Linked DNA regions of Homo sapiens. The protein of the gene in region 2 purifies or fractionates together with the protein of the main gene of each other region. This does not show direct contact. Each region holds a gene or a part of one and is shown on either strand. Other genes may lie near its edges.

The links.
Region 1: the proteins of MRRF (region 2) and NFS1 purify together in Homo sapiens (affinity purification with mass spectrometry; 2 studies listed by BioGRID and IntAct, with this or other methods). This does not show direct contact.

Annotation. Positions count from the first base shown.
Region 1 is NC_000020.11:35,675,345-35,682,373, forward strand, and holds part of NFS1 (cysteine desulfurase isoform a precursor), read right to left. Parts: intron 6,638-7,029; coding exon 6,544-6,637; intron 5,528-6,543; coding exon 5,393-5,527; intron 1-5,392.
Region 2 is NC_000009.12:122,274,871-122,281,899, forward strand, and holds part of MRRF (ribosome-recycling factor, mitochondrial isoform 1 precursor), read left to right. Parts: intron 1-5,572; coding exon 5,573-5,728; intron 5,729-7,029. UniProt on the Homo sapiens protein: Responsible for the disassembly of ribosomes from messenger RNA at the termination of mitochondrial protein biosynthesis. Acts in collaboration with GFM2. Promotes mitochondrial ribosome recycling by dissolution of intersubunit contacts.

The DNA of each region.
Region 1 (7,029 bases), on a different chromosome or scaffold from region 2:
AGAAACAGCAGTAAAAGCATAGTATTTAGTAAAATATTTAACATCTGGAAGATAAATGCCAGAAGGAGTAATGATCAAAATGGTTTAAAGTAGCTCCCTATGCTATATGAAATGCCATCATACATTACAGTATTATTCATAATAGCAAAAATACTGGGAACAACTTAGATGTCCATCATCAGGGTAATGGTCAAATAGATTATGGCATGTCCATACAATGAAATACCAAGCAGGTGTATAAAAGAATGAGGGGGCCGGGTGTGGTGGTTCACGCCTATAATCCCAACTGTGGGAGGTCAAGGCGGGCGGATCACCTGAGATCAGAAGTTAGAAACCAGCCTGGTCAACATGGTGAAACCCTCTCTCTACTAAAAATACAAAGATTAGCCAAGCGTGGTAGCAGGCACATGTAATCCCAGCTACTCAGGAGGCTGAGACATGAGATGAACCCAGGTGGTAGAGGTTGCAGTGAGCTGAGATCAAGCCACTGCACTCCAGCCTGAGTGATGGAGCAAGACTCTGTCTCCCAAAAAAAAAAAAAAAAAAAAGAAGAAGCTTGTTCTGAACTGACACCATAAAATCTCCAAGATACATTGTTACAAAACTGGTGAAATCCAAAAAAAAGTCTGTACTTTAGCTTGAAAAAACAAAGATGTATTGGCCGGGCGCAGTGGCTCACGCCTGTAATACCAGCACTTTGGGAGGCTGAGGTGGGTGGATCACCTGAGTTCGGGAGTTTGAGACCAGCCTGACCAACATGGAGAAACCCCTTCTCCACTAAAAATACAAAATTAGCCAGGCATGGTGGCACATGCCTGTAATCCCAGCTACTAGGGAGGCTGAGGCAGAAGAATTGCTTGAACTCGGGAAGCAGAGGTTGCAGTGAGCTGAGATGGCACCATTGCACTCCAGCCTGGGCAACAAGAGCAAAACTCCGTCTAAAAAAAAAAAATGTATTATGGGCTGGACACGGTGGCTCACACCTGTAATCCCAGTGCTTTGGGCAGCCGAGGCGGACAGATCATGAAATCAGGAGTTCGAGACCAGCCTGACCAACATGGTGAAACCCCGTAATTATTAAAAATACAAAAATTAGCTGGGCGTGGTGGCACGCACCTGTAATCCCAGCTACTCAGGAGGCTGAGGCAGGAGAATCGCCTGAACTTGGGAGCCACAGGTTGCAGTGAGCCAAGATTGTGCCACTGCACTCCAGCCTAGTGACAGAGCAAGACTCTGTCTAAAAAAAAAAAGATGTACCATTAGGTGAAAAATGAAAGATTGAAACAGTGAGTACAGTATGCTATCATCTGGATAAAAAAGAAAGCTGGAGGAGAAGTATATATTTGTTTGTAAACACATAGGATAATTGTAGAAAAACCCAAGAAATTGCCTCCCAATAACCAGAGAAAATCAGAAAAAAAAAAAAAAAAAAAAAAAAAAACCAAGAAAGAAATTACCTCCCCAGAAGGGAACTGCATAGCTGGAGGTCAGAGGTGAGAGGCAGACTTTTGTCTGTGCCTTTTTTTTCCCTTTTTTTTTGAGACAAGAGTCTTGCTCTGTTGCCCAGACTGGAGTGCAATGGCACGGTCTCAGCTCACCGCAACCTCCACCTTCCCGGTTAAAGTGATTCACCTGCCTCAGCCTCCTGATTAGCTGGGATTACAGGCACCCGCCACCACGCATGGCTAATTTTTGTATTTTTAGTACAGACGGGGTTTCACCATGTTGGACAGGCTGGTCTCAAATTCCTGGCCTCATGATCTGCCCGCCTCGGCCTCCCAAAGTGCTGCAATTACAGGCGTGTGCCACTGCACCTGGCTGTCTGTGCACTTTTTTGTAGCTTTTGAATTTTGAATCACATGAATATTACTTTTTCAAAATAAAATTTAAATTTAAAAACAATTTGGTGGAGCACGGTGGCTCATGACTACAATCCCAGCATTCTGGGAGGCCAAGGAAGGAGAATCACTTGAGACCAGAAGTTTGGGACCAGCCTGAGAAACACAGTGAGACCCCGTGTCTACAAAAAAAAAAATTAAAACTTAGCTGGGCATGGTGGCATGCACTTATAGTCCCAGCTACTCTGGAGGCTAAGGCAGGAGGATCACTTGAGCCTAGGAGGTCGAGGCTGCAGTGAGCTATGATCGTGCCACTCACTCCACTCCAGGCTGGGCAACAGACTGAGACCTTGACTCAAAAAAACAAAAAACTTAAAAATGCGTATAACCTGTGACTAAACAAGCCGAATTACAGAAATTTTGTGCCAAAATATGAGCATGAGCATGCAAAGTTATTCACCAAGTAATCAGGGCTTCTGAATAGAATTGGCACTTGACAGTTCTCCCACACAGAAAAACTGTTTATGCTGAGAATGGAGGTACTATAAAAATTAAGGCAGTGGTTTCCAAATCGATTATGAAGGACACCAGATTTTAAATAATAAGCTGGGTGCAGTGGGTCATGCCTGTAATCCCAGCACTTTGGGAGACTGAGGCGGGAGGGTTGCTTGAGGTCAGGAATTCAAGCCTGAGTAACATAGTGAAACCTCTATCTCTACAAAAACTGTTTTAAAAATTAGCCAGGCATTGGGCCGGGCACGGGATTACGCCTGTAATTCCGGCACTTTGGGAGGCCAAGGGTGGGTGGATCACCTGAGGTCAGGAGTTCGAGACCAGCCTGGCCAACATAGTGAAACCCTGTCTCTACTAAAAATACAAAAATTAGGCCGGGTGTGGTGGCTCACACCTGTATTCCCAGCACCTTGGGAGGCCGAGGCGGGCAGATCATGAGGTCAGGAGATCAAAACCATCCTGGCTAACACAGTGAAACCCCGTCTCTACAAAAATACAAAAAAAAAAAAATTAGCCGGGCGTGGTGGCAAGCGCCTGTAGTCCCAGCTGCTTGGGACGCTGAGGCAGGAGAATGTCGTGAACCCTGGAGGCGGAGCTTGCAGTGAGCCAAGATCACGCCACTGTACTCCAGGCTGGGTGACAGAGCGAGACTCCGTCTCAAAAAATAAAATAAAATACAAAAATTAGCCAGGCGTGGTGGCAGGCACCTGTAATCCCAGCTACTTGGGAGGCTGAGGCAGGAGAATCGCTTGAACCCGGGAGGCGGAGGTTGCAGTGAGCCGAGATCTCACCATTGCACTCCAGCCTGGGGGACAAGAGCGAGACTTTGTCTCAAAAAAAAAAAAAAAAAAAATTAGCCAGGCATGGCCGGGCACAGTGGGCCTATAATCCCAGCTACTCAGGAGGATGAGAGAGGAGAATCCCTTCAACCTGGGAGGCAGAGGTTGCAGCGAGCCGAGATCACACCACTGCACTCCAGCCTGGGCGTCAGAGTAAGACTTTGTCTCAAAAAAAAAAATTAGGCGTGTTGGTGCACACCTGTAGTGCTAGTTACTGGTGAGGCTGGGGTAGGAGGGTTGCTTGAGCCCAGGAGATTGAAGCTGTGGCAAGGTAGGATAGCACCACTGCACTCCAGCCTGAGCAACAGAGTGAGACCTTGTCCCTATAAAACAAATGAATAAAATAATGTATTAAACTGTATTTATTAAGAATTATTTCATTTCTCCATTTAAAAAAATTCAAGAATCTTATACTATCTGAGTCTAAACAGTTCCCAAATTCAAACAGCAAGTGCTCAAATACCATGTCTGAACAGTGAAGAATGCCACATTATCTAAATCTATTTAGATTCTGGACTTGGAAAGCAGGAGGTTGGATAATGAGGGACACCTGTACACATGTAAGTGTTGATCAGAGCTTCTGATCAATGAGTTCATTGGTTTTTTGTTTTTAAAATTTTTGTGAGTACACAGGAGGTATATATATTATGGAGTTCATGAGATTTTTTTTGTTTTTGAGAGGGAGTCTCGCCTGTCGCCCAGGCAGTGGTGTGATCTCGGCTCACTGCAACCTCTGGCTCCTGGGTTCAAACGATTCTCCTGCCTCAGTCTCCTGAGTAGCTGGGATTAAAGGCACATGCCACCACACCCGGCTAATTTTTTTATTTTTAGTAGAGACGGGGGTTCACCATGTTGATCAGGCTGGTCTTGAACTCCTGACCTCGTGATCCGCCCGCCTTGGCTTCCCAAAGTGCTGGGATTACAGGTGTAAGCCACCGTGCCCAGCCCATGAGATGTTTTAATACAGGCATATAATGTGAAATAGGCACATGATGAAGAATGGGGTATCCAGCCTGAGTTCATTGGTTTTTATCAAAAAGACTTATCTACAATAAAAGCCAATAAAAGCAACATTTTATTAAAAGACAGAACGCTTACTGGGCTTTTTGAAATAATAACTCACAAAAAACACTCTACAACCTCTGGGAACCCTTAGAAGACGCCATCTTCCATAATTCCAGAAGCTATTACACCTACTTCCACAAGGTATACACCCAGATAACACACCCTGCAGACATAAAAAGGGTACCAGCACAGACATCAACCCAAAAAAGGCCCTCACTTGAGAAAGAGGAGTTATATTTTATATTTATATTTTATGGTTACCTTCACAAAACAGAGGACAACAGTCTATTCCCAAGGGTTAAGGGAAAGAGGCATAACTCAAGCTTGAACACATTCCAATAGGACCATAGGGAACAAACATGTATCCTTGAGAGACTAACAGGATAACAGACTATGAAGTCTTCTAAGAATAAACACAAAGATAGCTGGGCTTGGTGGCTCACATCTATAATCCCAGCACTTTGGGAGGCCGAGACGGGCGGATCACGAGGTCAGGAGATCAAGACCATCCTGGCTAACATGGTGAAACCCCGTCTCTACTAAAAATACAAAAAAATTAGCCGGGCGTAGTGGCAGGCGCCTGTAGTCCCAGCTACTCGGCAGGCTGAGGCAGAAGAATGGCGTGAACCAGGGAGGTGGAGCTTGCAGTGAACCGAGATGGCGCCACTGCACTCCAGCCTGGGCGACTGAGCGAGACTCCGTCTCAAGAAAAAAAAAAAGAACACAAAGAGATGTCAAATCCCATGCAATCTTCCCCTGAGCTATAGCAAGACACTGGGAATGAGGGACTCAAATAGTTGCTCTGCACATCATAGTGGGGAAAACAAGATAGCTGGGCCTATCTAGATAAATTTGATTTGACAAAACCCATTTTTCCTCAACCAAATTAAGATCTACATGCTTGCTAAGGATTTGTTAAAGAGAGCAAGAAAGAATGGCCTGATGTATAGTAACTGCTAAGGTCTACAAACAAGCAAGTGTTTCTGGCTATTGCTAAATGACATTTGCATTCTACAAGGGACTCTGAATGTACAACTTCCTCTGAGAGCAACAGTAGTCCCAAATGACTGTGACAAACATCTATCAAAGGTCTTGCTGGAAGGTACAGAGAGAAGGAACTCTAGAAGGGGCTGGTACCTTTGGGACCGTAGATTTTGTGACCACTAATGCTCATGAGATCAATTTTCATGTCATTGACATCAAGTGGGATTTTTCCAACAGCCTGGGCTGCATCAGTATGGAAATATACCTTTCTGGAACTGCAAATCCGCCCTGAGGAAACAGAGGGGAAGACCCACAGCACAATGTTGGAAAGTCATCTGTCAGAGTCCCACAGTGCACTGTGAATTATCTCCAATAGTAAATGACCTGTAAATATTAAACTCCTCCCCTCCCTCCTTCTACCCCTTCTCCTTCCTCTTTTCCTTCCCTCCTCCCCCTTCCCCCTTCCTCCCTCTCTGTGTCTCAGTAGCTTCCCTTCTTTAGAATAAAAAAGATGAAGGGCAAAGCACCAGATCGAAACACTCGTGATATTCTTATGCATACAATTCTCACCACCTCATTAACACCAGCCTTTCAAAATGTCAGATTACTTTCTAGATCCCTTTTGATTAAAAAACAAACAAAACAAAATAAAAAAAAAAAAACAAGATTAACAGATCTTTGTGCTAATGTGCCTAAAGAAATTACAGGGCGATCTCTATGTGGGGAGAATAGAGATGTTCTAAAAGGAAAAAGAGTAGCAGGCTTTTTTGTTTTGTGGTTGGTTTTGGCAGCAACTGCAATAAAATTAAAAACCATAAAAGGTGCTAGACCTGGCCGGGAGCAGTGGCTCACGCCTGTAATCCCAGCACTTTGGGAGGCCAAGGCAGACGGATCACCTGAGGTTAGGAGTTCAAGACCAGCCTGGCCAACATGGCAAAACCTCATCTCTACTAAAAATACAAAAATTAGCCAGGCATAGTGGTACACACCTGTAGTCCCAGCTACTCAAGAGGCTGAGGCGGTAGGATCATTTGAACCCAGAGTGAGGAGGTTGCAGGGAGCTGAGATCACACCACTGCACTCCAGCCTAGGTGACAGAGTGATACTCTGTCTCAATGAAAAAAAAAATGGTAATAGACCTGGATTCAAATACTGCCTATGACACTTCCAATGTCCTTGAACAAAGTACTTAGGCTTTCCCTTGATTTCCTAACTACACTCCATAGAGTATTACAGCTCTCAGTATACTACCTCATACAGAGCCCCATGGTGGGCAGGGATCAGGGATAAGCCATGATACTCACCTATTTCTGCAATAGGCTGCTTCACTCCAATCTCATTGTTCACAGTCATGACTGACACCAGGCTAGTATCTGGCTGGATAGCAGCCTCTAGTTCCTAGGGATATGCAGGAGTAAGGTGACTAGATAGTACAAACAAAGTCCTCCTAAATCAGAATATAGGCAAACTTAGTCATGAAAAGGAGTCTTATACTACATACCTATCTGAATAGTTAACTAAAAACAGTGACAACACAAAATGTTGGTGAGGATGCACAGACTCTGAATGGTTCATACATTGTTAGTGGGAATGTAAATATCACAGCCACTTTGGAAAACAGTTTGACAGTTTCTGTTTCTCATCAAACTAAACATGAAATTACCATAGAACCCAGTAACTGTACACTTGGGCATTTATCCCAGAGAAATGAAAATTAAATTCACAAAACATCTTACACAAATGTTCACAATAACTTTATTCGTAATACCAAAAACCTAGAAACTACCCAG
Region 2 (7,029 bases):
TTTTTGCAATTTTATGATTTCTGTTCTTTATTATTTACTTTCTCCTGTGTACTTGTTCTGTTTCTATCCTCTGAGTTGGACAATTAGTTCATTAATTTTTGGTCTTTCCTGTTTTCTTTTTTTCTTTGAAAAATTTTATTATAAACATGATGCTTTGATATACATGCAGTGATATGGTTACATACATGCAAATTAACATATCCATTATCTTACATAGTTACCTCCTTTTTTTTTTTTTTGCGAAAGCACATAAAATCTGTCTTAGCAAAAAATCCAGAGTATAATACAATATTACTAACTATAGTCCTCCTATTGTACATTAGATCTCCAGACTTGTTCATCCTACATATCTACTACTTTGTATCCTTTGATTTATATCTCTCCATTTCCTCACCACCACCACCACCCCACCCCGCTGACCCCTGCTAAGTATTATTTTATTCTCTGTGTGTATTCATCTTTTTTGTAGATTCCGCATGTGGTTAGGCATGGTGGCTCATGCTCATAATTCCAGCACTTTGGGAGGCCGAGGCGGGTGGATCACTTGAGCCCAGGAGTTCAAGATCAGTCTGGGCAATGTGGTGAAACCTCTTCTCTACAAAAAAAATACAAAAATTAGCCAGGCATGGTGGCATGCGCCTGTAGTCCCAGCTATTCAGGATGCTGAGATGGGAGAATCACCAGAGCCCAGGGAGGTTGAGGCCTGTAGTGAGCTGAGATCGCACCACTGCACTCCAGTCTGGGTGACAGAGTGAGGCCCTGTCTAAAATACAAACAAGCAAACCCCAACCCTGAGATTCTGCATACAAGTATAATCATGCAGTATTTTTCTGTGTGTGGCTTATTTTGCTTAGTGTAATGTCCTCCGGGTTCATCCATGGCAAATGGCAAGGTCTCGTTTTTTAAGGTTGAATAATATGCCACTTTATACACAAACACACACACCCATACATGCACCCACATCATTTCTCTATCCACAGACACTTTGGTTGTTTTCATATCTTACCATTGTGCATAATACTTTCTTCTTTATTTTTATTTCTTATTGTTTTTTTGAGATGGAGTCTCCCTCTGTCACCCAGACTGGAGTGCAGTGGCATGATCTCAGCTCACTGCAGCCTTGTCCTCCTGGGTTCAAGCAATTCTCCTGCCTCAGCCTCCCAAGTAGCTGGGACTATAGGCACTTGCCACCACGCCCAGCTAATTTTTGTATTTTTTTTTTTAGTAGAGATGGGATTTCGCCATGTTGGCCAGGCTGGTCTCGAACTTTTGACCTTGGGTGATCCGCCCACCTTGGGCTCCCAAAGTGCTGGAATTACAGGCATGAGTCACCACGCCCAGCCTGTTTTGTTTTGTTTTGTTTTTAAAGTATTAAGGTTAGAAGTTTCTGTCTAAATACAACTTTAAATGCTTCCTATAAGGTTGTTTATTTATTTTAGAGATAAGGTCTTGCTTTGTTGCCTAGGCTGGAGTGCAGTGGCACAATCATACCTCACTGTAACCTTGAACTCCTGGGCTCAAGTGATCCTCTCGCCTTGGCCTTCCAGAGCGCTGGGATCACAGGTGTTGAGCCATCGTGTCTGACTTGAGTTTTTGACATTGAATATTTTTATTATGGTCATTTCTCAATATTTAAACATTTCCATTATGCATTTCTTTATAGCCCATGAGTGTTTATTAAGAAGTGTTTAAAGTTTTTCAAACAAATGGTTGTTTTGGGGTTAGCTTAATTCTACTCTGTTCAGAAGGCATGTTCTATATGATATAGATTCTTTTATTTTTGTTGAGATTTGATTTGTGTGTAAAACATGGTTGTTTCATAGAAGGTCCAAGTGTGCTTGAGAATAATGTGTATTCTTTTTTTCTTGGGTGTATTGTATTAGATCAAATTGACTAATTTTATTGATCAACTTTTCTGTTTTTTTATTTGCTTACTTATCGGTTATCAAGGAAGGTATATTGAACTCTCCTAGTATGCTTGTAGATTGATCAGTTTCTCCTTTTTTGTTGTTTTTTGAGACGGGGTCTTGCCCAGGCTGTAGTGCAGCAGTGCAATCACAGCCCACTGCAACCTTAATCTTCTGGGCTCAACTGATTCTCCTACCTCAGCCTCCCAAGTAGCTGGGACTACAGGCACGCACGGCCATGCCTGGTAATTTTTGTATTTTTTGTAGGGACTGGGTTTTGCAATGTTTCCCAGACTGGTCTTGAACTGCTGGGATCAAGCAATCTGCCCACCTCAGCCCCACAAAGTGCTGGGATTACAAGTGTAAGTCACTGCACCCAGCCAGTTTCTTCTTTTAATTGTATTAATTTTGAGGCTATCTTATTGATATATTTAATCTTAGAATTGTTATATATCTTTCTGGTGAATTGTTTCTATTATCATTTTGAAGTTGTCTTCATGATTTCCAATAGTGAATTTTGTCTTAAAATCTTTTTTGTTTGATGATAATGTAGCTACACCAGCCTTCTTTTGACTGATGTTTGCCAGGCTTATAATTTTTCCATCCCTATACATCAAACTTTCTGTGATCTTTTATAATTTTTAAAAACCGTTATGTTATATTCAGCTAGATTTTTAAAAATCTTACTGAGAATCTCCCACTTTTAACTTGTCATTTTGATCCATTTATATTTATTGTAGTCACTGCATATTTGTGTTATTATTTTATTTTGTACTTTCTTTCTTTTTTTTGAGACAGAGTCTCACTCTGTCGTCCAGGCTGGAATGCAGTGGTGCAGTGTCGGCTCACCGCAACCTCCGCCTCTCAGGTTCAAGTGATGCTTGTGCCTCAGCCTCCCGAGTAGCTGGGACTACAGGCATACGCCACCATGCCCAGCTAATTTTTTGTATTTTTAGTAGAGATGGTGTTTTGCCTTGTTGGCTAGGCTGATCTCAAACTCCTGGCCTCAGGTGATCCGCCCGCCTTGGCTTGCCAAAGTGCTAGGATTACAGGCATGAGCCACCACGCCTGGCCTTATTTTGGACTTTCTTTATATCATGTTTTTTCCTTTTTTCTTTTTTTTAAATGCATATTTAAAAATTTTTTTTATTGATACATATTTGTACATACTTATGGGGTATATGTGATGTTTTGTTACATGCATAAATGATTTAAGTTAGGGTATATGGGGTATCCAGCATCTCAAGCTTTTATCATTTTTATGTGTTGGGAACATTTAAAGTTCTTTTAGCTGTGTTGAAATATTCCTTTTTTTCCTTTTTTCTTCTTCTTTTCCCATTAGATTAAATTTCTTTATCCCTCTCTCTCTCTTTTTTAAATTCTGCTGATTTGGAAGATATACTTTTAATTTATTATTGTTTTGATGGTTACCCTTAACTAATTTTTTAACCTTTTTATAGAAATAAAAAAACCCTGTAGGAAAGTGCAGCTGTCATAAATTTCACAAGCTGAAATCACTTACAGCACCCAGATAAAAAAAACAGAACATTCTTAGCATGTCAAAAGTCCCCTTTGTGCTTCTTTCTAGTAAGTACTACCCTTGACCCTTTGCAGATAACTATTATTCTGACTTCTAGTAGCATGGATTCGTTTTCTCTTTTTTTTTACTTTTCAGTTTATATTCTCATATCTGGCCTTTGTACTGTACAGTTTTGTTTTCTTGTGTCTGGCCTCTGTGTTCAACATCATGTTTGTGAGACTCATTTAAATTTTTGTGTGTGTTCATTCTTTCTCATGGTTGCATAGTATTTCATTCATAAATATTACTATTCATTCCAATATTGACAGGCATATCTTTAAATTATTAATGTGCATATTTGGTTTTAAAAGTTCAAAGTTGAAGATATTATTTCAGTTGCTTCTGGCTTCTGTTGTTGCTCTTGGAAAGTGTTCTAAGTTTTAATCCTTCATGGATAATTTGTCTTTTCTCTTGGGCGTTTATAAAGATCTCTTTGTCCTTTGTTTTCTGCAGTCACAACATGTCTAGGTGTGAATTTACTTTTATTGTCCTATTTGAAACTTGTGTTTCTCAATCCGAAGATCCACATCTTTTTTTTTTTTCTTTGATCTGTCGCCCAGGCTGAAGTGCAGTGGCACTGATCTCGGCTCACTGCAACCTCCACCTCCCGGGTTCAAGCGATTCTCCTGCCCCAGCCTCCCGAGTAGCCGGGATTACAGGCACACGCCACCACGCCCAGCTAATTTTTGTAATTTTAGTAGAGATGGAGTTTCACCATTTTGGTCAGGCTGATCTTGAACTCCTGACCTCGTGATCTGCCTGCCTCGGCCCCACAAAGTGCTGGGATTATAGGCATGAGCCACTGCGCCCAGCCCCACATCTTCTATCAGTTCTGAAAAAAAACCTAAGCCATTGGTTTCAAAGCATAATGGTAACATGGGCAAATAAATGTTTTTAAAAATCACTCTGTTGCTTACCAGTTGTTTACTTTGGACGAAACATTTAAATGGCTTGTGCCTTAGATTTCTCATCTGTACCATGGGGACAATACTAATCACTATTCTTCCTACCTCAGAGAGCTATCTTGGATAGCAAGGAGGAGAATGTACTTGAAATTGCATTGCAAGTTATAATATGCCACCCAAATAGTACAGGATTGAGTTCACTGTAGATGTTCAACAAAATTTATTTAATGAATCTCAATAAATATTTGTTGAATGTTTAATGAATAAACAGTGTAAATATTGTTTAAAATTTTATTGTTTTTCTCCTTCCCCATTCCCTATAAAAGAAATGCAAGAATATTTGCATCACTCACAGAAATTATCTATGTATACACCTAGAATGTATATGAAAAATCACTACGATGATTTAGACATAAAATGAAATTATATTCAGCTCCCAATGCTGTTGATTTTCTAAAATATAAGCCATTGTCTCTACCATTGGTAGTGTTTAATGTCTGTAAACTACTATTGTTCCTTTTGTCTGTACTCTACCAGCCATCAGATATTGTGTGCATATCCTTGTCTTAGTGTCCATTTTTAATGAATTAATGTATTTCCTGTCTCTCTAATTAGATTTTGTGGAGATGGGCTAGTGAAAAGTTCATGGGTTTAAAATTAGGCAGATCTGGAACCAGATCTTGACTTTTCCATTTCCTGACCTGTGACATTAGGCAAATAGCTTTACCTTTCTCATCTTCTGTTTACTTTTCTGAAAAGTAAGGGATTAATTTAGTTATGGATTCCCTGCCATGTGTATAGTGTTCTTTTAGGTGTTTGAATGACTTAATTTGTATCCTTGTAGCAACCTTGCAATATAGATGTTACTATTCTTTTACAGGTAGGGAACTTGATACTCAGAAAGATAACTTGCCTAAGGTCATAAAGCTAGTATGCATTATAGCCAGACTTCTAACCTGGGGTGTCTGATTATAAAGTGTGCCCCCTCACTAGTATCTGAGAAGGTGTTTAGCACAGTTGACACTCAGTTAATATAGGCTCTTTTTTAGTGGAGCGATAATGTTTTATAATTTTCTAACACTTGACATTTTTCCCTGTACATAGTAGGTACTTCTTCACCAATTGCTTATTGGCTCTGTTTATGCTGCTGTTGTTTTATTCACTGAATGTTCACTTTTTAGCCAAAGGGAAAGGACAGTCCCAAACCAGAGTGAATATTAATGCTGCCTTGGTTGAGGATATAATCAACTTGGAAGAGGTGAATGAAGAAATGAAGTCTGTGATAGAAGCTCTCAAGGATAATTTCAATAAGACTCTCAATATAAGGACCTCACCAGGTTAGTGACTGAACCAATGTTCTGGGGAGGGATGTAATGGAAAGAGCATGGGTTTGGCAGAGTTGAGTTTTAGTCCCAGCTTTGCCATTTACTAACTGGTGGCCATGGGCAGTTACTTTGCTTTTCTGGTCCTCGGTTTTCTTGTTTGATTCTTAACTTACAGCTTTGGGGTGGTAGTTAAAATAAATGAGGTAACGTATTATGGTTCTAGCATAGTGCCTGGCGCATAGTTAACACTACATTTATTTATCCATGCTGCAAATTTTTGTCTACTTTGGAACTAGGCATTGTGCTAGTGCATAGTAGTAAACAAAAATAGGTATTGTCTTTGCTATCATGGAATTAGACTCTCAGAAAAATGAGATTTTTATTATGAATGTACTATAAACACATCTAGGTATTTAGTCTCATAGTAACTGACATCTTTGGTCCGATTTTTCCAATTTGTCCTGTTTGGCAGTTCTTATCCCTTACTGGGAACCAAATGAATACAGACCTGCCCACGTGAGGCATTTCTATACCCCTGAGCTTGACCAGGAAGATTCCGTTTGGGTTAATAACTTCCTGAAAGTGGCTTTTCTAAGTGGGAAATGTCAGAACTGTCTAGGCCAACTGTTTGCAGATGTGATGGAGAAGTGAGTTGTCAGCTGATGGTGCAAGCAGGCAGGAAAAATCCAGTTGCTGTTAAATTAGGCTTTTGCAAATTGTCATCATCCTAAAGTCAAACCTGGGACCCCTCTCTTAAGGTACCTGTGGGAGCTTGGGCTGCTTCTACTCACATCTTGATTAGGATAGTTCATAAGAAAACTAGAAATATTTCGCTCTTAAGAAAACCAAGTGAAAAATACAGCTCCACTTATAAACACTATCAGAAACATTACCGAGTTCAGAGATGAGATCCAGTGTGAAACTAGAAGACTGTTCCCGTCACTTGTCAACCTTTGGGCTGGGGCATTTCTGCCTTTGCTGACAGTAGAGCGTGCCATTCAATCTCTCTCAACTGTTTATTTTAAACTTGCTTATTATTTTAGGTATGAAACTGATAAAGTGCTCTGTCTCCCCTGTGTTTTCTGGCCTGTTAACATTCTGCAGCCGAAACCAGAGAGCAGTTTGAGAGGAGCTCAGGGAGAAATGTGATACTTAAAATTAGCCAGCAAGCTCCACTCTTGTTGAACTTAAAAAGATGATGGGCCTGGAAAGAGGTTGGGAGTGTAATTTGTTAAATGTTAACCTCTGAGAAAATGAGGGGCAGGAATGAGGCTGAGGGAGATTCTCGCTGGGGACAGATTGAGGGAAAAGGA